4 linked regions of the Homo sapiens genome follow. The protein of the gene in region 1 interacts with the protein of each later gene in a biochemical or structural test. Each region holds a gene or a part of one and is shown in the gene's direction. Other genes may lie near its edges.

Region 1 (7,647 bases):
CCCAGACTTCCTGTCCACACGGGAGGGCAAGCAGCCTCAGAGCCCCTGATGGGCCACACATCTCACATCGCAGAGCCCTCTCCTCTTTTTTGACAGGAACTGGGGTACAGAGAGGTCACGTGGCAGGCACAGGGCTGAGCCGGGCCCAGAACCCAGGTGTCCGACTCCCAGCTCAGGGCTCTTCCAGGGGCCTCCTTGGTTCCTGCTCACAGCGGGGATGGGGAGCCTCAGGTAAACTGCAACAGGGATCCTGTCTCCAGAAGGCCTGGAGCAGCGGGGGTGGGGCGGGGCAGGGGAGTGGGGTTGAGGGACTCTCGGCCTGAGTGTCTGTGTGCATTCAAGCCCCTAACCCTCGTGTAGAGTGCCCACACCGCCCTCCAGAACCTTCTGACCTCCCAGAATGTGACCTTGTTTCTGGCTAATTACCCTGACCCAGGAGACTGCCTCAGTTTCCCTCCCTGTGAAAACTCCACAGTCTGGGACTCTCCTCCAGTGGTGAGAATTGGACAAAACATGCAGAGACCTGGTCTGGGGACCAGGTGAGAATTGGACAAAACATGCAGAGACCTGGTCTGGGGACCAGGTGAGAATTGGACAACACATGCAGAGACCTGGTCCTGGGACCAAACAAGCAGCACCTGGCCACTCACAGCCAGCTGCCCAGTGACTCCGCAGGGGTGGGGTGGGGGGCAGCCAGCTGAGCCTTCTGAGCTTCAGTCTGCGCAGTGGGGCAGGAGAACCAAGCCCCAAGCTGGGCACCAGCCAGGAGACAGAAGTGTGGGACCCTGGCCTTGTCCCTTGAGCCAAAACTCAGAGGCAGCCAGGCCGAGTTGCAGGAAACCAGCCTTGCCCACCGGGACCAGCCTTGGGACCACTGTTCCTGAAGAGGCAGAGCCCACTCCAGACCTGCCCAAGGGAGCCAGCCAGGCCCTGGAAAGAGCTTCAGGAAACAGGGCCATCACCTTGCATTTCATCTGTCCAAAAGGGTGTGGGAGAAGAGGGAGGTGGGCTGAGAGTAGGGAAGCTTTGCTTGCCTTGGATTCAAGTTAGCTTTTTATTATGGGAGAACTTTAAACTTACAGAAAAGTTGCAAAGACAGTGGGAAGGTTTCCCAATGCTCTATTCCCAGTGTCCCCTAACCTGGCATCTTACACGGTCATGGGACAACTGCCATAACTGAGAGATTAACCTTGATACTTACGGCCAAACTCAAGGCTGTGGGCTTTGCTAGTTCTTCCACCACTGTTCCTTTTTCTGTTCAGGGTCCATCGTTTCATTTAGTGGTGGAAGATGAGACACTCCAGGCTGGGTGAGGTGGCTCACGCCTGTAATCCCAGCACTTTGGAAGGCCTAGGCGAGTGGATCACTTAAGGTCAGGAGTTCAGGCCAGCCTGGCCAACATGGTGAAACCCTGTCTCCACCAAAAATGCAAAAATTAGCCAGGCATGGTGGTGCACGCCTGTAGTCTCAGCTACTCGGGAGGCTAAGGCCCGAGAATCGCTTGAACCCCGGAGACAGAGGTTGCAGCGAGCCAAGATCGCGCCACTGCGCTCCAGCCTGGGCGACAATGAGACTGTCTCAAAAATACAATAAAATAAAATATAAAGAAAAAGTAGACATTCCAGGCAGGTAGAGTGACAGAGGCAAAGGCTAGGGGTGGGGACCCATGCCCACGCCCCCATGTCTGTCTGACAAGTAGCCGGCCAGGTGGTTGGCGGTGGGGACTGGGGGGCCCTGTCAACTGGTGTGGAGGTGACCCAGAGTCCGGGGGCTGATCCGGTGCAGAGGGAGGAACAGGGCAAGGAGCTGGAGGTGGGGCAGTGCAGGCCGTGGAGGGCGCAGGCCCTGGGTTAAGCCTCAGCTCTGCCATACCTCCCTGGGCCACTGTTGTCGTATCCACTAAATGGGCCGAAACTAAAATAAGACATAACAAGGTCATGATAAAAAGCCATCAAAACCAGCACTGAACTAGAAAAGAAAAATCACATCGCTTCTCCAGGCCCCAAGTCTCCCTTCCTGAAATGTGAAGGACACACCCACCTCTGGCGGAAGTGCAGCTGCCGACTCTCCCGGCTCCGGAGGCCGCCCAGCTACCCCCAGCTCCATCCATGCGGTCCCCTCCCCAGGCCCAGCTGCCCGGCCCTCTCCGGCACTGGTTCCAGAAGGGTGGCGGCTGCCCTGCGCCACTGGCTTCCCAGAGCATATCCAGGACAGGCCCCGCGCGACCTTGGGCGAGGCCCCGCTGCTAAACAGAAAAATCACAGCGCGCGGTCCAGCCCCCTGCGCCCCGCGGGCTCCAGGCCTCGCCCTGCCCGCCCGCCCGCATCCCAGGGACAGGCAGACCCGCATCCCCGCCGCCGTCGGTCCCGGGACTCCCCAGGCTCCGAGGCCCCCCACGCCCGGCTCCCGCCCCGACCCCTCGGAGGCGCCGGGCCACTCCTACGCCCCGAGGCTGCCCGGCCGCCGCCCCTCTGTCCCGCGCGCCAATCGGCGGCCTCCTTGACTAAATAAGGCCAGGAGCGCCGGGCGGGCGCCCCCCGTCCGTTACTTCCGCCCCCCGCCCGCCGTGACTCAGGCCCGGCGGCGGGCGGGGATGGCGCTGCCCCGGGCCGGGCTTCCCGGCGGAGGCGGGCGGGGCTCCGGCGGCGCCGAAGTCGCCAAATATGGCCGCGCCACCGCCCCCCGCCGCGTACCTGGGCCACACCTTGACCCCTGCCGCGTGACGCGGCCGCGGAGGAGGAAGTCGCTCTCCACCCCCGGCCCGCGGCGGCGTCCCCTCCCCGCCCCTCCCCGCGGCTCAGGCCCTGCGGGTGGCGGGGAACCCGGGGGTCTCGAGGCGCCAGCCTCGCCCCCGCCCCCACGACCCTGGCGGCCTCGGGTCCGCAACGTGGGGAAGAAAGGTGGGGGACGGGGACGCGCGCCCGGGGCCGGCACCTCCCCGCACTTCCTAGACAAAGAAGCTTCGGAGGAGACCAGAGACCCGGAGGGGCAGGGTCCCCGGCCGGCCCGGAGCAGAACGTAGTGTGGGGTGAACGCAGGATGGAGGGGCTTGTGGCTATTCCCCACCCGCCTCGTGTCCCTCGGTGTGTGACGTCGCATCTTGGGACCCCCCAAGTGGAAGTCCTCACCCGGGGGTCGAGCAGGCTGTGTGGTTCTGCCCAGGGACGCGAGTCCGGGTGGGTCTGTTGGAGGCCCAGCCCCGGCTTCGCCACGGGAGGGAACATACCTGACAGCCTTGCCCGGGCCCCCGGAGATTCTGGGCCTGGGGGCGCTCAGCACCCCTGGGAGGCCTGGGGCACGGGGGCCTTAGGCACGGGTCTCGGCGTCCGGGCTGACTGCAGCCCGCAGGTGAGCTGGGCCGGCCGCCTTGCCCTGACTCGCTGTTGTCACTCCCAAACACGGGGTCGCGAGCTAACGTTGCAGGGCCCCGGACTCCGCGTGGGGACCCCGGCCCCGCCCCCCAGCCTGTCGAGTCAATCTGAACGCTCTGCGACCTCGGGCGAGTCCGTCCCCTCACTGCGCGGCCTCACTGCCACCCCTACGCGGCCGGCGCTCCAACCCTGAAAATTCCAGCAGCGCACAAGGAAACCGTAGTGCCGGGCGCCTCTCGGGGTGTAACCAAAGCACCGGCGCCGCTCCTGGCGAGGAGTGAGCGCCCTGGACAAGCCTGTGGCTAAACCCACGCCAGCCCTGATCGCTGCTCTTAACTAGCATCGTAAACAGAAGAGGGTATCCCCCCGACCGCCCGAAGCTGGGGAGCCGACCTTCAAAAAAGTCAGGGCTCCCATTGTCTACCTCAGTTTCCCTATAATGTCTACAGGTGACCAGAATGAAACAAAGGCCTCACTCCACACCACCTTCTCAGCACATAAGGGGGCGGGGTAGCCCCAACCCGGAGCGCGCGCCTGGGGACAATCAGGCCTGTGATTTGAGGGGCAGGGATGTGTCGGGTCGGGTAGAAAGGGGCCTCGGTCTTCAAACGAACGGAGATCCGGGGCAGGGCGCCCCGTGGAGGGACCTGCATGGTGGTGGCTGCGCTTGGGGACGGGCGGGCTGTTTCCTATGGTGACCGGGGCGAGGTGAGGGCTCCTGAGAGCTCCCCCGCGCCCAGGGACGCAGAGCGTCGCGGACCCCCGCCGCGCCCCTTCCTCAGCCCGGCACTGGCGCCCGAGATCCTCGTGGAGCCCGAGGGGAAAGATTGCAAGGGACGTCCCAGGGAGCAAAGCCCCGCAGCGTGGCCGGGGACTCGGGGACCCACCCCAGCTCCGGCGCGGCCCCGCCCCGGGTCAGGCAGTTTCGGGGCGCAGCAGGGCCCTCCCCACGGCGCGGCAGTCCCGGGGAGGGGCCAGGCCCGTCAGCCCTTCGGCCCTCCCGGCGACCCTCGGAGGGCGCCCCAACTCAGACCCGCCCGCCGGCCCGCGCAGGGTCGCGAGCGCGCGGGGGTGGCGCGGGCGGGGCCGTTGGGAGGCGGTGCGGGCTGGGGGCGGGGCGGGCCGGGGCCCCACGTGTCCCTGCCCGGCGGGCCAATGGGTGCCCGGCTTTCGGAAAGATCGCCATATATGGACATGTTCTGGGGCCGCGCGCGCCGCCGGGCCGCGCGGGCGCGCCGCTTCCGCTTAAATAACGGCGGGGGAGGCCGCGGTCGGTCTCAGTCGCCGCTGCCAGCTCTCGCACTCTGTTCTTCCGCCGCTCCGCCGTCGCGTTTCTCTGCCGGTGAGCGCCCCGCCCCGGGGCCTGAGCTGGACGTCGCAGGCCTGCGCCCCCCGACCCCGGCTGGCCCCGCTTCCAGCTGCCGAGGCCTCGTCGCGCCTTCCCCGGGAACAAAAGGCGGGGTGGGCCGGGTCAGGCGGACGGGGCTGGGGGGGCGCCGGGGGTCCAGGGCGGGGCCCGGCCGCAGTGCAGACTTCCGAGCCGTGGACGTTACGTAAAAGGCCCGGCCTTCGGTTCCAGGCGGTTGCGATCTTGGAGGCCACGGCCGCTGGGGTTGGGGCAGGGCCGAGGCTTCCCCGCGGGAGGGCATTAGGTGGCTGTGGGGAGGGGACCGTGTTACAGACGCGCCCGCCTGAGTCCATCCTTTTCCGGGCAGGTCGCAATGGAAGAAGAGATCGCCGCGCTGGTCATTGACAATGGCTCCGGCATGTGCAAAGCTGGTTTTGCTGGGGACGACGCTCCCCGAGCCGTGTTTCCTTCCATCGTCGGGCGCCCCAGACACCAGGTGAGTGGATGGCGCCGCGGGGCTCCTGGGTTCTGCGTTGCGGGGTGGGTTCGGTGTCGCCGGCGAGGCTGACGGGTCGTCCCCTGCAGGGCGTCATGGTGGGCATGGGCCAGAAGGACTCCTACGTGGGCGACGAGGCCCAGAGCAAGCGTGGCATCCTGACCCTGAAGTACCCCATTGAGCATGGCATCGTCACCAACTGGGACGACATGGAGAAGATCTGGCACCACACCTTCTACAACGAGCTGCGCGTGGCCCCGGAGGAGCACCCAGTGCTGCTGACCGAGGCCCCCCTGAACCCCAAGGCCAACAGAGAGAAGATGACTCAGGTGAGGCTCGGCCGACGCCCGTGCTCCTCCCGTCCTTTCCCCAGTCATTTTCTGCCCGGCTTGATTTCTGACATTTAAGTGTTTCTTTCGCTGTTCCAGGCTCTGTTCCTCTCCCGGCATTTCCTCCCTGAAGCCTCCAGGTTTCTCATTTGGTTTCTGCCTGCGTTCTTTTCTTTTCTCCACACATCACACTGGCATGCAGCATGTTGTGGCGTGTGAGCATGGGGTGGCCGTGGGTCTCTGTCCCTGACTAAGCCGCCCCTTGTCCCTTCTCAGATTATGTTTGAGACCTTCAACACCCCGGCCATGTACGTGGCCATCCAGGCCGTGCTGTCCCTCTACGCCTCTGGGCGCACCACTGGCATTGTCATGGACTCTGGAGACGGGGTCACCCACACGGTGCCCATCTACGAGGGCTACGCCCTCCCCCACGCCATCCTGCGTCTGGACCTGGCTGGCCGGGACCTGACCGACTACCTCATGAAGATCCTCACTGAGCGAGGCTACAGCTTCACCACCACGGCCGAGCGGGAAATCGTGCGCGACATCAAGGAGAAGCTGTGCTACGTCGCCCTGGACTTCGAGCAGGAGATGGCCACCGCCGCATCCTCCTCTTCTCTGGAGAAGAGCTACGAGCTGCCCGATGGCCAGGTCATCACCATTGGCAATGAGCGGTTCCGGTGTCCGGAGGCGCTGTTCCAGCCTTCCTTCCTGGGTAGGTGTTGTGAGCTAAAGGTTTCTACTCTTACATCCTCGGTGACACAGCATCACTAAGGGAGGGCTCTGTCCCCTAGGTATGGAATCTTGCGGCATCCACGAGACCACCTTCAACTCCATCATGAAGTGTGACGTGGACATCCGCAAAGACCTGTACGCCAACACGGTGCTGTCGGGCGGCACCACCATGTACCCGGGCATTGCCGACAGGATGCAGAAGGAGATCACCGCCCTGGCGCCCAGCACCATGAAGATCAAGGTGAGTCGAGGGGTTGGTGGCCCTCTGCCTGGCTCGGGAGAGCTGACTGGGGGGCGCTCTGTGAGCTGAAGCCGTGCCTGGCTGTCTTTGCAGATCATCGCACCCCCAGAGCGCAAGTACTCGGTGTGGATCGGTGGCTCCATCCTGGCCTCACTGTCCACCTTCCAGCAGATGTGGATTAGCAAGCAGGAGTACGACGAGTCGGGCCCCTCCATCGTCCACCGCAAATGCTTCTAAACGGACTCAGCAGATGCGTAGCATTTGCTGCATGGGTTAATTGAGAATAGAAATTTGCCCCTGGCAAATGCACACACCTCATGCTAGCCTCACGAAACTGGAATAAGCCTTCGAAAAGAAATTGTCCTTGAAGCTTGTATCTGATATCAGCACTGGATTGTAGAACTTGTTGCTGATTTTGACCTTGTATTGAAGTTAACTGTTCCCCTTGGTATTTGTTTAATACCCTGTACATATCTTTGAGTTCAACCTTTAGTACGTGTGGCTTGGTCACTTCGTGGCTAAGGTAAGAACGTGCTTGTGGAAGACAAGTCTGTGGCTTGGTGAGTCTGTGTGGCCAGCAGCCTCTGATCTGTGCAGGGTATTAACGTGTCAGGGCTGAGTGTTCTGGGATTTCTCTAGAGGCTGGCAAGAACCAGTTGTTTTGTCTTGCGGGTCTGTCAGGGTTGGAAAGTCCAAGCCGTAGGACCCAGTTTCCTTTCTTAGCTGATGTCTTTGGCCAGAACACCGTGGGCTGTTACTTGCTTTGAGTTGGAAGCGGTTTGCATTTACGCCTGTAAATGTATTCATTCTTAATTTATGTAAGGTTTTTTTTGTACGCAATTCTCGATTCTTTGAAGAGATGACAACAAATTTTGGTTTTCTACTGTTATGTGAGAACATTAGGCCCCAGCAACACGTCATTGTGTAAGGAAAAATAAAAGTGCTGCCGTAACCAATGAATGGCTCCTGTTTGGGGAAGTAGCAAGTGGGCTGGGAAAGACAGACCAACCTGGAAGTATTGGGTAGTCTTGGGGGTGGGGGCGGTGGGTGCTGCTCAGCTTGGCTTCGTGGGCTGGTGAGAAAACGGCTTAACAATAAACTGAGCAGTTCGATTTCTTCCAAATCGA
Region 2 (7,021 bases), on another chromosome or scaffold:
ATATCTTAGGGGGAACCACTTTGAATTTTTTTAAAAAAGGTGTTTACTCCAGAAAGAACAAGGAGTATTAGAGGAAGAATTGTACAGATCAAAATGGAAAGTTTGTCTAAATAAAATTGTCTTTGGGAAATGATTAAGAATTTCAAAAATATATATTATATATGTATGTATTAAAACATAGGTAATTATTTAATACAGCTATGCTGTTTCATCTTTAATTATAATTTTTTTTTTCATGAATGCACTTTGGCACAGCTGGAAGTACTTCAGTTAGGGATTGTTACTTGCCTAGTGAGGCAGGTACATTTTGAAAGTTGATCAACTCATCTCCTTAAAAAGAAATTATATACTATGAGAAAAGAGGTTCATTTTGAAGGTATAAATGTAACATAAAGGTGTAAAGCTGAATTTTTGTAGGCAAATATAAGTTTCTACAGTTGTTTTTCAATATCTTCAGTGTGCGTCCCACGTAACAACTCTGGAGTCTAAGTATTAACCTCTGTTTATAACATGAAATCCCTTGATAAAAGCTTTAAAGTTGATCATCTAAGTCTGTGTGTGCTGGAATAAACAGAAGTAACCCAGCAAGTATTATTCAGGAGAGGGTTTGTTATCTGAATGTAAACATAGATTTGGAAATGTATTTTTGGCTTATACATTAAGATGGAAAGGAAATATTTTTGAATAATATCTTTAAGGCAGCAGTTTATTTCTTGTTAATTTGATTAATCTTGTCCTGCGCTTGCCAGTTTGATATCTTTTTTGTCTTTTACAATAAGAAGTGATTCTAAGAAAGTAGGACTTTCTGGAGACAAAGATTCTTGGCTAAAGATTTATTACTGAGTTTTGCTAACTTTCTTTTCCAAGGTGGCTGATGGCCAAGAGTCTACACCACCAACACCTGCACCCACTTCAGGAATTGTGGGTGCATTAATGGAAGTGATGCAGAAAAGGAGCAAAGCCATTCATTCTTCAGGTAGAGAGAGAGAGAGAGAGAGAGAGAGAGAGAGACAGAGAGAGTGTGCGTGTGTGTTTAATAAATTTGAATGTTTGACGTTCTGTTATTTTTATGACTGTCTTTGCTAGCTTTCTCTCTGCTAATTGAGTAACTACTGATGTGGGCTCTAGGATGTATTTTAAAAAGTTGTTGCCTGTGTGACTAGTCTCTCTGAGACTTAACAAATGCAACACCACCACAGCCATAGCCATAAATTGAAAGAACAGCTTTGGGAATATTGACAGTTTTGTTTCCTATATCAGGAAATGCTAATAGACTTCCTAGCAAACAACCTCTAAACAAAGCTTGAGATTTTTAGATCTCATTCCTGTGACATTACTGTGACATGAAAAATTCAGGGCTGGGTGCGGTGACTCACACCTGTAATCCCAGCACTTTGGGAGGCCGAGGCGGGTGGATCACCTGAGGTCGGGAGTTCGAGACCAGCCTGGCCTACATGGAGAAACTCCATCTCTACTAAAAATACAAAAAAGTTAGCCGGCGTGGTGGCGCATGCCTGTAATTCCAGCTACTCGGGAGGCTGAGGCAGGAGAATTGCTTGAACCCAGGAGGCAGAGGTTGTGGTGAGCCAAGATCGCACCATTGCACTCCGACATGGGCAACAAGAGCAAAACTTCGTCTCAAAAATAAAATGAATAAATAATAATAATAATAAATCGGGCCATTTACCTCATCTGTAAGGATTAGGGATAAGAATTTCAGTAATTTTTACTGTTTCTAGAGTTTGCTAAAGAATACTAACTTTTTTTAAACCTTTCTTTTTCATTTTCTAAAAGGTTGATTTGAAGAAACCAGTACCTATTCTGAGGTTATTATTAAACATATACATACCACCATATAAATATTCCTTTAAAGAAAGAACAAGAATATGAGTTTTGCTGATTGGAGTAGTTGAGGTTTGCTAAATAGCTTCTCCAACATGATGTGCTAGAATCAGATCTTTCTTCTTAGATTTATTTAATCTCTGTGAGCCTCAGTTTCTTGTTTGTTACATTCAGAGAACTCACAAAACATATAGATGTGAGAATTAAATAGTATGTCACTAACCTGCAGATTGCCTAGCACATAGTAGGTGCTTAATAAATGTTACCTTCCTTTTGTTTCTCTGTAAGGATGTCCATGTCTTAAGATCCTTGAGCAATGTTTGTTTTCCTTAAATAGGCATATTTGTACCTACCCTCCATTACAGAGATAGAGATAAATATTTATTGTGGAATAATAATAAAATTTTAACAAAAAAAAAGTCCCTGCCTTCATCGACATGCATTAGGTCTAATGAGAGAGAGAGACAAGCAATAAACAAAGAAAACTAGAAAAACATACAGTATGTTAAATGGTGACATGAAGTAAGGACAAAAGTCTAACAGAAAAGGGAAATAGGGGGCAGACTGTTGAGAGAGAGGTTCATTTTGAAATGATAAAGGATGATAAGGGACAATAAAGCCTAACTGAGGTGACATTTGAGAAAAGACCAGCAGTTCAGGAAGTGAACCATGTAGAAAACTAGGGAAAGTGTATCCGATGGAAAGAACAGAAAATATAAAGTCTGTGAGGTTGAGAAACAATGAGGAGATCACGGAGCTTGCAAGGGAGGGAGGGAAAGAATAGTAAGGAATGAAATACAAGAAGTAGTAGGAGGCCAGTGGTAAGGCTTTGGAGACCCCTGAAAGTGCACTAGCTTTTATTCTGCATATGATGGGAAGCCATTGGAGGGTTTTTAGCAGAGGTGTAGTAATGATCCAAGCAAGAGGTGATGGAGGCTTGAACCAGGTTTATAGCACCAATGAGAAGTGGTTAAATATTAATTATATTTTGAATGTGGAGATCACTGGTTTTGATGATGGTTTGAAAGTGAAGGTTGAAGAAAAAGAAGAGTGCAAAATGACTCCAAGGTTTTTGACTTGAACAACTGGAAAGGGGAAAGACTTACGAAGAAAAAGTTTGAGAGGGAAGATTAGGAGTTTGATTTTACATATTAAATTTGAGATACCTATTAATTCAACTATAGATGTGGAGTAGGCATTTCGTTATGAGTCTGGAAGTCACAGGAGAGGTCTGAATTGTTAAATTGCATGTCAGTAGGATATACATAGACACCTGGTATTTAAAGTTATGGTTATGTTTATGGTATAGTCTTCTTTAGCATAAAAACAGTGAAAATTACCTAAATTCTTAGCCCTAATCCTCACAGATGAGGTAAACTGCCTGAATTTTTTATGTCATAGTAATGTCATAGGAATGAGATCTAAAAATCTCAAGCTTTGTTTAGAGGTTGTTTGCTAGGAAGAGATAAAGAAAGGTCTTCATTCATTCATAAAGAAATGTAAGGCTTCTGTGAACTACATGATTCTGAAAAAGCATTTATTCTATGCTGGTATCTGTGAGTTCTGCTAAATATTTCCCTACAATAAGTTTTTTTTTAATAGTATGTAATAGTCACGCTAATATAATGAAAATATAGGATGGTTTTTACTTATTTTCAGACCCATTTATTTTAACTGTTAGTATTTCTGTGGTAGTACCTGATGATGAAATTATTAGCTACTTCTTCCTCTTCACCATAGATACTGATAAGTTTCTGTCTTTTGTCAGTCTGTAATGCCAGCATAGTCAGGTGTCTTTGATGCTTTTCATCCAGGTAAATTTTGTGAAGCATGTCTAGCAAAATCTGGTAGCAAATTATTTCCCTTGCTAGAAGAGTAAACAGAAATTAACATGACTCAATTGAACTCCTTTCCAAATAAATTCTGTAACAATTTAGAGCTGACCATGAGACTTAAATAAATAAATAAATAAATAATAAATAATTATCGTTTTAAAAGTAACAACTTAGTTTAGGGCTAAGAGAAGATAATGTTGCTTCTCTTGGGCTTCTGTTAATTTTCAAGTTCTAATACTAGAGCTCCAGTACTTCTTCAAATACTACCTTCACACAATCAATTTTACATGAGAAAAATAGAAGAAAAAGATTGTTCTGTGTTCTGTACATGTAACCCACACGTATGTCACCTAGTCTTACTGGCTTTTTATCATTATCAAGTACAATTACTCAGCCACTGTCCCACTTTATATACTTGGCCTTCATGGGTCCTATATATATATTTATATACATATTTATATATATTTATATATTTATATATAGGTATATGTATTTATATATTTATAGGTGTATATATTTATACATATTTTATATATAGATATATGAAGAGGTTAAATATGGAAAGTCAGTATAATATAGAAGTATGCTTATAAAATCTGATAACTAAATATTCCTTCAACAAATATTTATTGAATGGCTGGTGTGTAGTGCTGTTTTGGTGTTGAGGATACAGTGAGAAATAAGATAGGCAAGGTCCGTGCTGTCATGGAGCTTAATAGATAAAGTACAATAATTTTAGATATTAGCAAGTGATATGAGGAAAGTAAAATGGGATAGGCCGTTACTGATTATGGGGAAGAGCTATACTTTACATATGATGGTCAGGAAAGGCCTCTCTGAGGAAGTAGTTTATGAATGGTTTCTAAATGATGAAAAGATTCAGTTTAACGAAGAAATAGCTACTGCAGAAGTTCTAAAGCCAGAATAAGATTGGTGAGTTTAAGGGACAGAAAGGAGACCATCTTACTAGAGAGAGTGACTTGAAGGGAGAGTACATATGAGAGAAGTTTGGGGAGAGAGAGAGACAATAACTGGACAAATCATGTAGGGTCTTATGGAGGGAGGTAGCATCAGATTTCATTCAAATAGCAGTGGTAGCCACAGGAGGACTTTAAGAAGGGTAGCAACATATTTTTTAAACTTGAAATTTAAATAATATCACTCCATTTGCTCTGAGTCAAATAGACTCTAGAGTTGCAATAATCCAAGCAGGATGTGATGGTGGTGTGGAGAGTAGCAGTGAAAGAGGTGAAAAAGAGCAGGCTTGATAATTGGATCGTGAAAAAGGAGGAAGTAATAATAATTTCTAGGTTTTTGGCCTGATTATGTGACAGGATGGTGATGCCATTTATTGAGATGGAGCAGCAGACCAGGATGGAGCAGGAAAAGAAGATTGGGGAAGGAAATAAAAGTTAGAAGTTTTGAGTTTGAGAATCCATATGAAGAGTACAAGAAGGTAGTTGGATTTGTGACAGAAAGGTCAACCCAGATGATTTTATACATTAACAGGTTGAAATTTGTCACATAGATATTAAGGAACTAGAACCATTGTCTTCTAAGCCCTGTTTTAATCTTTAGTTTACTATCATACTCTATAGATATATTTCTTTAGATTCACTTTAAACTGTTTTAGTAACTAGATTCTTCTGGGAGTCACATTATCTGTGTTTCAGGAGTTAAATAATTGGAGAAACCACCCAAGAATTATGTAATGTCATTTTATTTATGCATATGTTTTAATTGTCTTGATTTTCTTGTAGATGAAGATGAAGATGAAGATGATGAAGAAGATTTTGAGGATGATGATGAGTGGGAAGACTGATCTATATATTATATATATATATATATTTTTAAGGTGAAATACTAAACACTACTTTCTGTCTGTGGATTCTGTAAAATTATCATGTAAATGTTCTACCAATTTGCTGTATATTTTTGTTGCCTTTTTTGCTTTTTTTTAATCTGTGCAATACCTCATTTAATCTGTAAAGGTTTGTCGTAATCCTCTACAAAGCTACTCCCTGTTATTGTGTGCAAGTTTACACCAGGATGCTCACTTGATTTGTGAATATTTTTCATTCCATCAACAAGGGAGTTTAAATACTATATGTGAGACTGACAAAAACCTTAATGTAATTTACTTATAATGCCAGAAGGAAAACACTATTTTCATACCCTACTTTTTCTGTACCTAAATTTTCTTAAAAAAAAATCTAGTATAGCACTACATTCTTTTTTAAGTGATGCAGACCTTAGTTTCTTTAGCCCCTTTATTTTGAATACAATGCTACATATGAATGTTGAAGCTGATACATTGCACAGTTCTGTAGACATCACTACACCGATGTAGTTTCTCAAATTTTAGCAATATGCTCTACATAAAATCACTACAGAGATACTAGTGGGGAAGACGATTAACACACCTCTTACAGTAATACTGCCTGTTATTGGTATAGCAGTGGTATTTGCAGACTGGGATCATAAGGAGCCCTTAAATACTTGTTATTGACTGGGGTTATTTTTATGCTGTAGCAAATGTGACAGGCTCTTTTTAGCAAAATTTTTGAAAATTTTTTTGGTATTACTCTGAAACAAAATTTAAGTTGGAGTTTCAGGGATTTAGGGAGTAGTTTTCATTCTACATGAACTGAGGTAATATTATGGTAACTCCAATATTTGGTTAAAAAAACTATACAAATCAGAATAGTACTAAAATACTGTAGAATTTTAGCATTTTTATTTTGCACTTTGTGTGGATTGAGGTGTTCAGAAATACCAACCATAAAAATGTAATCTAGTTGGCAAAGGTGTGCGCTAAAACACGGAACCGAACATGCATTGATTTGGATAACTTTTGAGGGTTTTTGTCAAATAGCATGTGAAGAGTTACATTTTTCTTAAAAGATTGGTGGTCCCAATGTCAGAGTTCTTGGAACAGATAACTGAATGATAGATTTTTTTTTTTTAAAGATAAAACTTTACAACCTGCACATTTGTTATGCATACTAAATGGTGTGTTAAAATTAGGGTTTCTTTGCCTCTCTACACTACACTAATCTGCCTAAAGGTGGTTGTTTCATATTTATAATGCTAATTATCATACCTACCTACTTTAAATTTTAGGTAGAAAATTATCTGATTTAAATACAAACATATTTTTCTCACATTGAGTAATATGCATAATGTAGTTCCAAATGTATTTCATTACTATAGTCACAATATCCAACTAAAAATTACGCTATCTAGAATTGTACCAACCAAAATCTCGTATTGGCAGATCTTGACAGGCTGGACCTGCAAGATGTGGCTTGAATTTTAACCATTTATTACATAATCTCTAGTGA
Region 3 (7,875 bases), on another chromosome or scaffold:
AAAGATTAGACGAATGGCTAACTAGAATAAATAGTGTAGAGAAGATCTTAAATGACCTGAAGGAGCTGAAAACCATACCACGAGAACTTCGTGACACGTGCACAAGCTTCAATAGCCAATTCCATCAAGTGGAAGAAAGGATGTCAGTGATTGAAGATCAAATTAATGAAATCAAGCAAGAAGACAAGATTAGAGAAAAAAGAGTGAAAAGAAATGAATAAAGCCTCCAAGAAATATGGGACTATGTGAAAAGACCATTTTGATTTGTGTTCCTGAAAGTGATGGGGAGAATGGATCCAAGTTAGGAAACCTTCAGGATATTATCCAGGAGAATTTCTCCAACCTAGCAAGGTAGGCCAACATTCAAATTCAGGAAATACAGAAAACACCACAAAGATACTCCTTGAGAAGAGCAAACCCAAGATACATAATTGTCAGATTCACCAAGGTTGAAATGAAGGGAAAAATGTTAAGGGCAGCCAGATAGAAAGGTCAGGTTACCCACAAAGGGAAGCCCATCAGACTAACAGCAGATCTCTCAGCAGAAAGTCTACAAGCCAGAAGAGAGTGGGGGCCAATATTCAACATTCTTAAAGAAAAGAATTTTCAACCCAGAATTTCATATCCAGCCAAACTAAGCTTCACAAGTGAAGGAGAAATAAAATCCTTTACAGAAAAGCAAATACTGAGAAATTTCATCATCACCAGGCCTGTCTTACAAGAGCTCCTGAAGGAAGTACTAAACATGGAAAGGAACAACTGGTACCAGCCACTGCAAAACCATGCCAAATTGTAAAGACCATCAATGCTAGGAAGAAACTGCATCAACTAACGAGCAAAATAACCAGCTAGCATCATAATGACAGGACCAAATTCACACATAACAATATTAATCTTAAGTGTAAATGGGCTAAATGCCCCAATTAAAAGACACAGACTGGCAAATGGGATAAAGAGTCAAGACCAATCAGTGTGCTGTATTCAGGAGACCAATCTCCATGCAAAGACACACATAGGCTCAAAATAAAGGGATGGAGGAAGATCTACCAAGCAAATGGAAAGCAAAAAAAGCAAGGGTTGCAATCCTAGTCTCTGATAAAACAGACTTTAAACCAACAAAGACCAAAAAAGACAAGGCCATTACATAATGGTAAAGGGATCAATGCAACAAGGAGAGCTAACAATCCTAAATATATATGCACACAATTCAGGAGGACCCAGATTCATAAAGCAAGTCCTTGAAGACCTACAAAGAGATTTAGACTCCCACACAATAATAATGGAAGACTTTAACACCCCACTATCAATATTAGACAGATCAACGAGACAGAAGGTTAACAAGGATATCCAGGACTTGAACTCAGTTCTGCACCAAGCAGATCTAATAGACATCTACAAAACTCTCCATCACAAATCAATAGAATATACATTCTTCTCAGCAACACATCGCACTTAATCTAAAATTGACCACATAATTTGAAGTAAAGCACTCCTCAGCAAATATAAAAGAACAGAAATCACAACAAACTGTCTCTCAGACCACAGTGCAACCAAATTAGAACTCAGGATTAAGAAACTCACTGAAAACCACACAACTACATGGAAACTGAACAACCTGCTCCTGAATGACTACTGGGTAAATAACAAAATGAAGTCAGAAATAAAGATGTTCTCTGAAACCAATGAGAACAAAGACACAACATACCAGAATCTCTGGGACACATTTAAAGGAGTGTGTAGAGAGAAATGTATAGCACTAAATGCCCACAAGAGAAAGCAGAAAAGATCTAAAATCAACACCCTAACATCACAATGCTAAAAACTAGAGAAGCAAGAGCAAACAAATTCAAAAGCTAGCAGAAGGCAAGAAATAATTAAGATCAGAGCAGAACTGAAGGAGCTAGAGACACAAAAAACCCTTCAAAACATCAATGAATCCAGGAGGTGGTTTTTTGAAAAGATCAACAAAAATGACAGACTACTAGCAAGACTAATAAAGAAAAAAAGAGAAGAATCAAATAAATGCAATAAAAAATGAAAAAGGGGATATCACCACCGATCCCACAGAAATACAAACTACCATCAGAGAATACTATAAACACCTCTATGCAAATAAACTAGAAAATCTAGAAGAAATGGATAAACTCCTGGACACATCCACCCTCCCAAGACTAAACCAGGAAGAAGTTGAATCTCTGAATAGATCAATAACAGGTTCTGAAATTGAGGTAATAATTAATAGCCTACCGACCAAAAAAAGTCCAGAACCAGATGGATTCACAGCCAAATTCTACCATATGTATAAAGAGGAGCTGGTATCATTCCCTCTGAAACTATTCCAATCACTAGAAAAAGAGGGAATCCTCCCTAGCTCATTTTATGAGGCCAGCATCATCCTGATACCAAAGCCTGGCAGAGACACAACAAAAAAAGAGAATTTTAGACCAATATCCCTGATGAACATCGATGCGAAAATCCTCAATACAATACTGGCAAACCAAATCGAGCAGTACATCAAAAAGCTTATTCGCCATGATCAAGTTGGCTTCATCCCTGGGATGCAAGGCTGGTTCAACATATGCAAATCAATAAACATAATCCATCACATAAACAGAACCAACAACAAAAACCACATGATTATCTCAATACATGCAGAAAGGGCCTTCAACAAAATTCAACAACCTTCATGCCAAAAACTCTCAATAAACTAGGTATTGATGGGACGTATCTCAAAATAATAAGAGCTATTTATGACAAACCCACAGCCAATATCATACTGAATGGACAGAAACTGGAAGCATTCCCTTTGAAAACTGGCACAAGACAAGGATGCCCTCTTTCACCACTCTTATTCAACATAGTGTTGGAAGTTCTGGCTACAGCAATCAGGCAAGAAACAGAAATAAAGTGTATTCAACTAGGAAAACAGGGAGTCAAATTGTCTCTGTTTGCAGATGACATGATTGTATATCTAGAAAACCCCATCATCTCAGCCCAAAATCTCCTTAAGCTGATGAGCAACTTCAGCAAAGTCTCAGGATACAAAATCAATGTGCAAAAATCACAAGCATTCCTATACACCAATAACAGACAAACAGAGAGCCAAATCATGAGTGAACTCCCATTCACAATTGCTTCAAAGAGAATAAAATACCTAGGAATCCAACTTACAAGGGATGTGAAGGACCTCTTCAATGAGAGCTACAAACCACTGCTCAACGAAATAAAAGAAGACACAAACAAATGGAAAAACATTCCATGCTCATGGATAGGAAGAATCAATATCATGACAATGGCCATACTGCCCAAAGTTATTTATGGATTCAATGCCATCCCCATCAAGCTTCCAATGACTTTCTTCACAGAATTGGAAAAAACTACTTTAAAGTTCATATGGAACCAAACAAGAGCCCACATTGCCAAGACAATCCTAAGCCAAAAGAACAAAGCTGGAAGCATCATGCTACCTGACTTCAAACTATACTACAAGGCTACAGTAACCAAAACAGCATGGTACTGGTAATGGCTGCACAACTATGCAAATATACTAAAATCCATTGACTCATACACTCTAAATGGGTGACCTTTATGGTGTGTGAATTATGTCTCATAAAGTTGTTAGAAGTCAACATAAATGGAAGAGCAACCATTCACATAAAAATAAACAAAATTGTCAATGTTTTAAGAATTTTTCAGTAGGTGTAGTTAATTACAATTTGACTTTTTTAAGTCTGCACTAAAATTACTCACCAAAACCAATAGCAGGGTCCTCACTGCTGTTACTGAAAATGATTAACCTTTGATACACTTGTAATATCTGAGAAAAAGAAATGCAGGGGTCTCAGCAGGGCTCCCTTCTAAGGTCACTTGATTTCTAAAGAAGTAACCACTAGGTTTGAAGTCATCAGGATGTTAACTATGGGGATGGTTGGTTCAGTACCCAACATCCTGACAGCACATCTGACCATGTATATTGTATCGGAGACCACATCCTCAGCTCAGAAAAAGAGCTGAACTCATTTCAAATAGAAAGCACACTGCATACTGTTCCTCCAGGGACTGAGGTTGACTCTTCTTAGAGTGAGACATTCCCCAACATTGGAACAAAAATGACTCCCACTTCTTTTCTCACCTAAACCTGTTCAGAAGAAAGTAAGGAAGAAAGGCAGGAAGCAGGGGTCGGGGGGGGGCGGGGAGGGAGGGAAACTCGGAGATACTTTCAGTATCTAAAGTTGTGAAACTAGACAATCAGGAACGCACAATCAGAGGGCTGAAAAGGGCCAAGAGCCCCTACCCTCCTCCAGCCCATGTTCCCACACCTGCCACAGACCAGGCAGGAGCACAATAAACACTCACCACAAAGTGGGGAAGGAAAATCCAGGCAGGAGCCTCTATGTAAATAAATCTCCCTCCTGTCCTCAGCTTGCACTTGGCCTGCTAATTCTTATATAACCCAAGGAGACAGCTAGAAAGAATTTTGATTGGTGACCAATTTTGAGGACTTTTATTAAAATTCTAATTTAAGTCTTCGAGAGTTTCCAGTCATGGATACTACAGATAATATTGCAGATGATGAAAGCGTCTTCAAAATCATAGCTGAGACACTTTACAGTCTTCCCTGGTGTACTCTGATGGCAACAAGGTCCCTTGCCCCTCTCCTACCCTGTAGAATTCCAGCGCCCCCCTCAGCAGTCCTAGCAAAGGAAAGCCTGCCTGCTGGCAGTGAGCCATCATCCACCATTCTCACTTATTTGGATTTGGTTTCCTAATGCTAAACTTTGAAACTTGAAAAAAAAAATGAAAGGAAACCACATCCTTTTTACTCTCAGTATATAGATAGAGGCAGTTAAGAACTGAAAACAGATTTTCAGGTTGATTGATGTGGGACAGCAGCCACAATGAGGAACTCCTATAGATTTCTGGCATCCTCTCTCTCAGTTGTCGTTTCTCTCCTGCTAATTCCTGAAGGTAAGACTGATTCTTCTCATTTCCATTATGACCATGAAGCAAAATGGAGCAGACTTTCAATGAACTTTTGGCAATATTACCTTCCTATACTGAAAGAAGATGTTTTCCCCCAAGCCTTATAATGTTTAGCCAGGCACAATGGCACATGCCTGTAGTCCCAGCTACTAGGAACGCTGAGGTGGAAGGATCACTTGAGCGCAGGAGTTTGAGTCCAGGCTGGGCGACATAGTGAGACCCTGTCTCTATTTTTTTTTTTTAAATAGCATTCTTTCTTGGATTTTAAATATGTCTGTATTTTAGAAAAAAAAATCTTTTCTTCTCATAATTATTTTGCAAAAGATAGCAGAACCACCAATGCTTATTGCTGCCAATTTGTAACTTGAAAATTGCCAAAAAGGACAATGTAAAAATGAGTTAACAAAACTCTCTTGTTCGTAAAACAAATAGTACCTTCCAGGAAAGGAATAGTGGCAACTTAGTCAGCTCAGCCTTTCCTGCTGCAGAAAATGCATAGATAAAGACAATTAAGACAAATCTGACCTAGACACCAAAAGTGAATCAGGAATTATTAGAATTTTTATACTTATTTCTCTGGTCTAGAGACTCTTTGGCAATAAATTAAGGCGTGAGGCCAGTTCCCTCATTAACCCTTTGGGTGTGCTATAGTATTTTTTATTAAGCTAATTTTTTGTCTACCAAATGGTAACCAATATTTCTGCTTTTGTGTGAGTTGAGCATGCATGGGTTAAAATGCTGTATAATTCATGGTATTACCACTGAAAGGGTGACAGCTCTTGGGGAGCTCTAGATTTCCCTTGAAGAACCTGCTAGGAAGTGAGGACTACTCTCAAGCTGTGGCAATATGGAGCCAGCCACGGTTTTTCCCAGGATTCATCAGCTTTTGGAGGCAGGGACTTATGTAATAACCTGCCTTGCCAGGAATTCCCAAAGAACTCTGGTTTATCATATTTAGGTGCATATCTGGTTTATGCACCTAAATATGAGAAGACTTTGGGAGGCTGAGGTGGGTGTTTCACAAGGTCAAGAGATGGAGACCATCTTGGCCAACATGGTGAAACCTTGTCTCCACTAAAAAAACAAAAATTAGCTGGGTATGGTGGCACGTGCCTGTAATCCCAGCTACGCAGGAGGCTGAGGCAGGAGAATCGCTTGAACCAGAGAGTTGGAGGCTGCAGTGAGCTAAGATCGTGCCACTGCACTCCAGCCTGGTGACAGAGCGAGACTCTGTCTCAAAAAAAAAACAAAAAAGAGAGAGAGAGAGAAGAAATATAAAAATAACAAGGCTGCAGGACATTTGGGACAAAGGTTGGCTATGTTATAAGCAGGGCATAGTATGACTATATTCAGGCATGTTAAATCCTCCATAACAGAAAAACACAGGGCAGATAAATCCAGCCATATCTTTTCTTCAAAGGAAAACAACAAAAGCAACCTGCTGTGCTCCTCTTTGTTTCCTGTGTTCAGAGAGGGCAGTGTGGGCCCATATAAGGAACAGACAGCAAAGCAAGGCACAGTTGAAATCTATCTGTACATGAATCACCCTAGGAAAATTGGGATTGGGTGAAGGTCTTTTGTTTCTATAAGCTCTTTACCCTTTTGTTTCTAGAGCCTAGAATTTCTTCCTCCCAGTTTCCTTTTTAAAAGCAGAGACCTCTGCTTTTTCAAATCACACTAGCCACATTTCATGTGGTCACTCTCCTCCTTGCTCTTACCCTCATCAAATCTTACGAAAGGCTTCTATAGCTGTCATTAATACTTGCCTGTGAATTTGGCAATGACTTAGTCCTAATTATGGAACAAGAGGCACTGTGCCCTATTCAAGAAACCATGAGTCTCAGCAAAACTATTTTGGGAGAATCCAAGAACATCTGGTGCAGGAGGTGGAGCACTCGGAGTGTATCACTAAGACATAAGGTTCTCTCTATCTGCATGTATGGTTTGCCTTGTGTTTAGTTCTCACTGTTCCTTAACAATGGGTCTCTACTTCAAGACTATCATCAAGGAAATGTCACTTAGGCAGAATTCTTGGCATATGGTATCTTCTCTCTTCTCTTCCCTATCTCATTGGAAAAGACCTTAGATTAAACCCCATGGTTTGGTCTAGAGATTGAAGGGGAGGTGCAATCGATGTTATTTTCTTAACTTATGAGTGAGAACAGTGCAGTTTAATAACCAAAAGTCTCATAATGACCAAAGGACTGAGGGGTAGGGTCACAGCTAAACGATGCTAATATCGGTTCATAAGCTATATTTTTGCAATGGCTTGGGGTTAAAAGGGAAGTTATGAGGCTTCTAAAAGTCTTATCTATTTCCCCCAAATTAATAGTTAGCCAAAAAGGGTGGGAGCACTTGAGGTTGTCACTACCACTGGCATTTCCTGCAGCAACTGTTGATGGTAAAGACCAAGGCAGAGCTTTCTGCCCTGGGGCCTGAGGTTGCTGGTTTGTGACATCCAGCCTAATGATCCTGGAACAGTCAATGGCCTCGCTTCTGTGGGTGGAAAAACAGGACCCTAGAGTCCAACAGGAATAGGATTTGCATCAGATGTCTGCGGGTCTACATAGAGTAAAAGCAGGGGAAATGCTCTCATCCAGACTTCCTCTCTGAGTGCAAAAAGCATGGCTGGTCTTAGAAACATGACTTTGTGTAGAGCTCTTTGGGGGTGAGCACCAATCTGATTTGTCTTTTTCCATTGAACAGATGTCTGTGAAAAAATTATTGGAGGAAATGAAGTAACTCCTCATTCAAGACCCTACATGGTCCTACTTAGTCTTGACAGAAAAACCATCTGTGCTGGGGCTTTGATTGCAAAAGACTGGGTGTTGACTGCAGCTCACTGTAACTTGTAAGTGCCTGGGTTTTTAAAAAAAAGTTTGTAAAGATACT
Region 4 (7,386 bases), on another chromosome or scaffold:
TGATTGAGACAGAATATAACTTTACCCTTATCTGGCGTATGGAACAAAGCCTTTAAAAGGCCTTAGGATTCTAGAGAAGAGTAGTGTTTAAATGAGGCGGCTTCTGAGCCAGCCAGTCTGAGTTCAAATCCTGCCTTTGGCTTTCGTTGTGTTTTCTTGGGGAAGTTATTTAATCCCTCTAGAATTCTCTCATCTGCAAAATGAGGAGAATAATGGTGCCACTGTCATAGGATTGTGTGAGGATTCGGGAAATACTACATGGAAAGCTTCCCAGTATATGGAAAGCACTCAGAAAGCACTTGCTGTTATTACTGCTATGGGTACAGCCATGATTGTTACTATCATTATTCTACAACCTGGCCCCTGCCTGGTTCCCAGCGTTATTTCCTGTCACTTTCTCTCATTTTACGCAAGTGCCTGCCAAGCTAAGCTACTCATTGCCCCCTGCGTTAACTCGAAGATTCTCTGCTTCCGTATTGTTCCCTGGCTGTGTGGAGGCTGAGTAACCACTTGGAGGGGATGTTGTAGAGGAAAATTCAAGCCACAGAAGGGAAACTGGGTTGAATGAGATCCCCTTTTACATTTCTTTTGGCTCTAAAGTTTCCATCGGATCAATAAAGCAAACAGGACAATTAGCAGCACGGCACTCAGCACTGAGCACAGGCGAGGGTGTTCTTTCACTCCTCTTTGCTTTCCTGCCACCCCCTGCTCGCCTTCCTCTTTGCACCATGTGGGTCCGCTCTGGGTGGGAGTCCTGGAGAAAGATACTTCAACTAAAGATAAGGCAGAGATAGGCCTCGGTGGAAAGACTTGGTAGACAGACCTGGGCATTTGATTAAGAGCAAATTGCTTAAATTCTCGGAGCCTCAATTTCTTTAGTAGTAAAATGGGGATATTAGTACTCACTCCATAGGGTAAGAATGGAATCAGATATTGTTTAAAAGGGCTTATAGCTGAGGTTACAAGATATAGCTAGTCTACTAAATATCCTTTCTCTTTTCATTTTCCTGTTATTCACAGGGGGGACTTAGGCTGTGTCTTTAAGGGGTTTTAGATTCCAATCAGTGGAAGGAGGGCTCTGCTGTGAGGGAGACCAGATGGAGACTGCAGGGGCCACAGGGGAACGTGGGGTGCAGGCAGGTGGGGCAGATGGTAGGAGGCCCTGAAACTCAGACAAAGGGATCTGGGCTTGAGAAAGCAAGAGCTGGGAGCTCAGCTTTGTTCCTGTTCTTCCGTTCCTCCCTCCTCTTCCTTCTTCTCTTCTTCTGGTAAGTTTTTGGCACAAAATTAAATAGGTTCAAACTAATAGAACTCATTTTCATGAATTCAGACTTCTAGCCAACTTCTCCATGGTTAGAAATAGCCACGACTCTATCCCAGGCCCGCCCTGGAAAGCAAAATAAAACTGCGTCCCCTGCCACCTTTTCCGGGTTCCACCAGACACAGGGTTGGAGGGGAACCGCCCTTCAACGCAGGCAATGTTGGCACATTTTTCATTGGGCGCTGTGGCCCGTGAGATGAGGAAGGCAGGACAGGCGCAAAGTGGACTCTACTTATCTTTCACCAGAGAGCCCCAAGGCCAGAGTGCACCATACAACCCGGAGTCACCCAAGGCCTTTTTTTTTGGGGGGGGGTCTCACTGGGAACAATGTCTGCACCCATTGTAAGCAGTTCCTTTGCCCCTGTGTGCCTCTGTCTTTTTAATTGGGATCGAAAACTGCTACCTCAATGGTAGTTGTGCCCGGCACATACTAACAGACTTATAAATGTAGCTGCCTGGGGCAGGGATGATCCTGGAACATTCTGACATCTAGAACATTAAGACTAAATGGATTTAATTATCTGGGGAGAAGAAAGCAAGACAATTAGAGTCACAGGTTCAACACCTGAGTTCAAGTACCTCCCTCATTTAAGAAAATCAATTCATGGAAGGCTGAGGCAGAGAATGGCTTGAATCCGGGAGGTGGAGGTTGCAGTGAGCCGAGATCACATCACTGCACTCCAGCCTGGGTGACAGAGCGAGACTGTCTCAAAAAAAGAAAAGAAAAGAAAATCAATTCAATGCAGTGGGAGAACTGTTATTGAGCAATTACTATCCACCAGACGCTGTGGAAAGCACAACTGCCTAGCTCCTCACACTCTTCCTGGTGATTCTCGGGTACAGACTAAGAGGATGTGGGGAGGACTTTTACATGCTCTTGGCATATATAACAGAGTGGCTACCAGCTGAGGTAACCCAATGATGGCTCTCTAAGCCTCAGTTTCCCCATCTGGAAATTTCTTATGGAAAGGCGGTGGGAAAGAAAGGAAAAAACAAATGTAAAACTTACGTTACAATGCCTGACTCTTAGAAAATATCAACCGACAGGAGTTGTCATGTTTTATTTGCTGTAAAACTACCAAAAGATCTTCTATCAACATTTTGTAAGTGAAAATAATAATATATATTCATATGTATTAATTATATAGAAATAATATATAATAATATATAAATGTCTCTATAGGAGAAATAATATCAAGACACCTAAAATTTTTAATTAATTCTAAACACTAAGACAATTATTTTATTATTTTTCCTCAACCTTCCATCCTAAATCATACGAATAATAACAATAGAAAGAGCTTACTAATTGTCATGCACTGTCCGAAGCATTTACTCCTCCCAACAACCCTGTGAGGTCGGTGTTGCAATGAACCCATTTTACAGATGAGAAAACTCCAGCACAGAAAGATTCATTCACATGGCCAGAGTCATGCAACTTTTAAGAATATTCCTTTGGTTTGCATTTCCTTGTATCTGCACCACCCTTCCCTTTCCTGTCTCTCTAGGTCTCCTGACCGGTTGGCAGGTCAGTCCCAATCATGGGAACTCTTTTCCTTTAAGCAGTCGTCTCTCTTTCTCTTCCTCTCTGTTTCCACCTGCCCTCCATCAGTGTCTCAGCACAGTGGAAGGCTGCTTGCTACCGCACTGGAAAACTTCTCCAGACATTTCCAAGTTTGCATTCGTCCATCTCCTTTGGAGAATTGCTTCAGTGAGGCCTAACCCTTTCTGAGGAAAGGCCCTTGGGAGAAGAAGCCAGGAGAAGGTAGTGGCACTCCTTTGTCATCAGGAGACATTGGGAGGAAAGAAATGATTTTCGACAGCAGCTGGGTGAGGGGAAACAGAATCACAGAACCTGCGGAAACGGTGTCGGTACAACGGCAGCTGCCAGCTAAACGGGCGAAAAGGCACCCTGCAAGATCTTTTCTGTGTTTCAACGATGAAGTAGACTCCCAACATGGAACAGGGGCGGGGGGGCTGTTACCAGACAGGTGACATTTGGTGCATGCACGAACAGGTCCAGTGCCCCATTCGGAGGCCAGGAAGGCAGCCACCCAGCAGAGCATTAACTAGGGGACCAGACGGTCACCTGCCCCTGCTCACCCCCACCTCCTTCCTCCCCAGGAAAAAGGAAGTCAAGTAGATGGAGAAACGGGGAAGTCCAAGCTGCTGGCAGTGGCATTCAAGGGTCTATATATAAGGTTGACTCTAATCCCCAGCGAGACAAAAGCCTGTGCCATAAAAATGATTAGCAAGGGGTTTCTAAAAACATTTCCCCAGGCCACGGAAAAGGAGAAGGAATATTTTGCACACTGCCTTGTCTCTTAGAAATAATCACAGCTAGGCCTCTTTATAACCGGCGAGTCTTTTTCCTTTCACACGCCATTTGCAGGCGCGTGGCATGGTATTTGTAACTAATTTTCAGTAGCAAGTGGGTCACTGGTATTCACAGAGTCAGGTGCCATTTTGAAAACTGCTTCCCTCTACCCGAATCTCTTATATTTCCAGATGCAGATGCACTTCAGCGATGTCCTAGTGCTGGAAACGCTCCCTTGAAAATATAATTTGATTTTTGAATTTCATCTTAAGACATTAGAGATAATGTAACTGTAGTCTTTGGAATTCAACGCTGGCCTCCTTAGCCATCACTTTTAAAATTTATGAAAATAAGGAAGAGGAAGGTAAAGAACTTCCTCATTGTCCGGCAGTAAAGTCAATGGCAGAGCTTGAGCTTGACTTATTTTGCTAAGAGGGAGGTGTTTTACCCTATAAACTCCAAATTACCTTACACCCAGCAAATACTACTGTTGAGTGCTCACAAAAATTATGCTGATGAAACAATATGGATGTTTCAGTGATGAAACTTTCTCTTTTAAAATCACTTAAGGGTGCTTTACGTCCCACCCAAGGCAAGAGGAACGCCAGCGAGGAAGACAAAGAGGCCCGGGGTGGGGCGCATGCCCGCCACTGGACTGAAAGCTGAGTCACAGGAATCGTACCCCTGCAGCGGGCCAGGCCCTCCAGGGAGGGACACCGCGCCCTTGTGTGGAGATGTCCACAGTAGACAAAGGCAGTTTCGAAATAAAAGAATGCCTGTCACCCCAGGTGCCACCCCGACCCTTAGTTATTATGCACTGGTCCCCAAGAGCAATTTCTGCGCTGCTGTTGCAAAAATTCATCGTAATGAAATAAACGTAAAAGGGGAAAATGTGTTATGAAGTGTTGGAGGGTGCTTTGCTCATTTTTTTCGCCATCGTTGTGGTTAGGGTGCATGCACTAGTGGACCCCGGGTGGGGGTGGGGCTCCCCTCCCCAAAAGCCCGGCAGGCCTCCGGATGCCGTTCCGAGACGCGGCGCGAAGGAGTTAAGCGGGCCGGCGGGTGACATCACCTCATTTACATAGGAGCGCCCATAAAGCTGCGCCCGCCGCACCCCGCCCGACAACTCGGTGGTGGCCACTGCGCAGACCAGACTTCGCTCGTACTCGTGCGCCTCGCTTCGGTGAGCCCCAGGGCCCCTGCCTCCTTCCTCCTGCCGTCCTGCCTCCGTCCCCGCCCTTTCATCATCCGCGTCCCTGTGAAGGCATTCCCTAAATCCGAGCCCGAGTGGTTCTCCCCGGGAAGGCTACTTTGGGGAGCTGGGGGGATGCGAAACACCCTAGATACTGGATAATGGGGTGGGGAAATCGATGATTTAAGAACAAAACCGAAAAACTGGCGTTTTGCCGTGCCGCTCGGAGGGGACATTAAAAAATTTCTTAGTGTTTGCCCGCAAAGGTATTGTGCGTTGCCTTGGAGGCTGAGATATGGGGGAATAGACAAGTCCTTTGTTCTGAGGTTCATCTTCCGAGCCCCGAGCCTCCTCCCAGCCTCGGACGGCTGCGCGGGCTGCATCTGTGCAGCCTGGCGGCGGCGGGGCTGTGCTATGACATCTTTACAGTCCTTCTTGCAGAGACATGTGTGCCAGGGATGCCGAATTGCCGGGAGAGCAGGCAAGACCGGCTTCGGGGCGCGCGGCGGCCGCTTTGTGTGCGGGGCTGCATTGTGACGCGGGCGATGAAGCCGGTAGGGCGGTGGTCGGAAGCTCCAGCCGCGGCCGCCGCCTTTGTGAGAGGACTAGAAAGCCGGATCCGGCCCGCATCCTTGCGGAGAGGCCGCGGCTAGGAAATGGAAACGCTTTTCCTACCTGGGCTCCATTTTAGGAATTCTTGCCGATTTTTCCCACTTGAATTTGGAAGTGGCTTTCCTCTTCTTTCCTTGTCCTAGCCAGCCTTTAATTTTAAACGCTGTAATTAACAATTCGCAGTGGTCAATTTCCTTTATTCTGCAAGATTCGGCTTTGAGAGGCATCCGCCCTCTTTGGTCCACAGCGTTTTGAAATATGGGGAGGAGGGGCGCGGGGGGTGTCGCCTCTTTTTCTGTAGAAAGAGGAAGCTCGTGAGCGCGGAACGGCAGCAGTAGGAGAGCGAGAAGGGTTTTTTTCAGGCTGCGGGTCGGAGGGCAGAAGTGCAGTTCCCAGCCCAGAGACAGCGGGGCGGGTGGCTCTTCCTCACGCTCGCTCTTGGCTTGCTCCCTGCAGCTTTTCCTCCGCAACCATGTCTGACAAACCCGATATGGCTGAGATCGAGAAATTCGATAAGTCGAAACTGAAGAAGACAGAGACGCAAGAGAAAAATCCACTGCCTTCCAAAGAAAGTGAGCTCCGACCCACCCCCATCTTTAGAAAGGCTGGGTGGGAGCGGCCGGTGGGAGGGCGGGAGGCTGGGAGCGGCCGCGGGAAGAATTCGGGAGGGGGGAGTGCGGGGGAAGAGCCGACAGTTGATGAATGTGGCTTGCAAAGGTTAATTAAAAATGGTTTTGCAGCCAACAAACACGGGGCTTTAGTAATTTAGTAATGGAATATTTAATATGCCATATTAATATACAAACATTTATCCATTAAAATGTATTTCTATTTAGTATATTCAATATACATATTTTATTCCATTGTGGAATACCGTGTAGAATGTTTATGATTTGAAAAGATGCTTTAAATGAAAGCCCTTTAGTCTGTACTGAATCCTTTAATCATCTCCCTCCATCTTTTTTTTTTTTTTTTTTCTGGTCACAGCGATTGAACAGGAGAAGCAAGCAGGCGAATCGTAATGAGGCGTGCGCCGCCAATATGCACTGTACATTCCACAAGCATTGCCTTCTTATTTTACTTCTTTTAGCTGTTTAACTTTGTAAGATGCAAAGAGGTTGGATCAAGTTTAAATGACTGTGCTGCCCCTTTCACATCAAAGAACTACTGACAACGAAGGCCGCGCCTGCCTTTCCCATCTGTCTATCTATCTGGCTGGCAGGGAAGGAAAGAACTTGCATGTTGGTGAAGGAAGAAGTGGGGTGGAAGAAGTGGGGTGGGACGACAGTGAAATCTAGAGTAAAACCAAGCTGGCCCAAGGTGTCCTGCAGGCTGTAATGCAGTTTAATCAGAGTGCCATTTTTTTTTTTGTTCAAATGATTTTAATTATTGGAATGCACAATTTTTTTAATATGCAAATAAAAAGTTTAAAAACTTAGCTGGTGTGTCTGTTTGGTTTCTGGAAGGATCGCGGATGAAACCTTTGCAAAGAGGCCTACCTCTTGGTCCATTGGGGAGGGACAAGCATCTGGTGACTGGATAAATTCCCTTATGGCATAGAAATGGGTTTCACCCAGGTATGCAAAATACCTTGTCTATACTAGGAGATCATTTTCTCAGGCTGATTGAATTCCTAGTATGAATTGTGTGAGAGCTTTAATAAAAATATCTTTGCAGTTCTTACGGGTTTTGATAAGCTGACATTGCACGTGCTCAAGAAAATGAAGGTGATAATTTACAGCACAGTATCTTATTTCAGGGTATCAAATTGAACTTGGTTATTTAACCAAGTGCTAGCATTAACATAGATGAGTAAAAATTACATTTTTAGCAGCTGCGTTAAGAAGGAATTTAGGACTTGAGCTTACTCATTTTCTAATGGCCGGTTTCTAATCAGAGTTCAATATTTACAATTGCTTTAATGAATACAGTTAAGATTAGTGA

The links.
Region 2: the proteins of ACTG1 (region 1) and WASL are reported together in a solved structure, tested with the Homo sapiens proteins (one study listed by BioGRID).
Region 3: of the proteins of ACTG1 (region 1) and GZMA, one has a biochemical effect on the other in vitro, tested with the Homo sapiens proteins (one study listed by BioGRID).
Region 4: the proteins of ACTG1 (region 1) and TMSB4X are reported together in a solved structure, tested with the Homo sapiens proteins (2 studies listed by BioGRID, with this or other methods).

What each region holds. Positions count from the first base shown.
Region 1 is NC_000017.11:81,509,800-81,517,446, reverse strand, and holds ACTG1 (actin, cytoplasmic 2), read left to right. Parts: upstream 1-4,647; 5' UTR 4,648-4,713; exon of another isoform or gene 4,714-4,832; intron 4,833-5,086; 5' UTR 5,087-5,092; coding exon 5,093-5,215; intron 5,216-5,304; coding exon 5,305-5,544; intron 5,545-5,820; coding exon 5,821-6,259; intron 6,260-6,338; coding exon 6,339-6,520; intron 6,521-6,613; coding exon 6,614-6,757; 3' UTR 6,758-7,476; downstream 7,477-7,647. UniProt on the Homo sapiens protein: Actins are highly conserved proteins that are involved in various types of cell motility and are ubiquitously expressed in all eukaryotic cells.
Region 2 is NC_000007.14:123,682,997-123,690,017, reverse strand, and holds part of WASL (actin nucleation-promoting factor WASL), read left to right. Parts: intron 1-867; coding exon 868-976; intron 977-5,437; coding exon 5,438-5,499; 3' UTR 5,500-7,021. UniProt on the Homo sapiens protein: Regulates actin polymerization by stimulating the actin-nucleating activity of the Arp2/3 complex. Involved in various processes, such as mitosis and cytokinesis, via its role in the regulation of actin polymerization.
Region 3 is NC_000005.10:55,097,785-55,105,659, forward strand, and holds the start of GZMA (granzyme A precursor), read left to right. Parts: upstream 1-4,861; 5' UTR 4,862-4,898; coding exon 4,899-4,968; intron 4,969-7,689; coding exon 7,690-7,834; intron 7,835-7,875. UniProt on the Homo sapiens protein: Abundant protease in the cytosolic granules of cytotoxic T-cells and NK-cells which activates caspase-independent pyroptosis when delivered into the target cell through the immunological synapse. It cleaves after Lys or Arg.
Region 4 is NC_000023.11:12,970,348-12,977,733, forward strand, and holds TMSB4X (thymosin beta-4), read left to right. Parts: upstream 1-4,762; 5' UTR 4,763-4,821; intron 4,822-5,898; 5' UTR 5,899-5,914; coding exon 5,915-6,014; intron 6,015-6,429; coding exon 6,430-6,464; 3' UTR 6,465-6,876; downstream 6,877-7,386.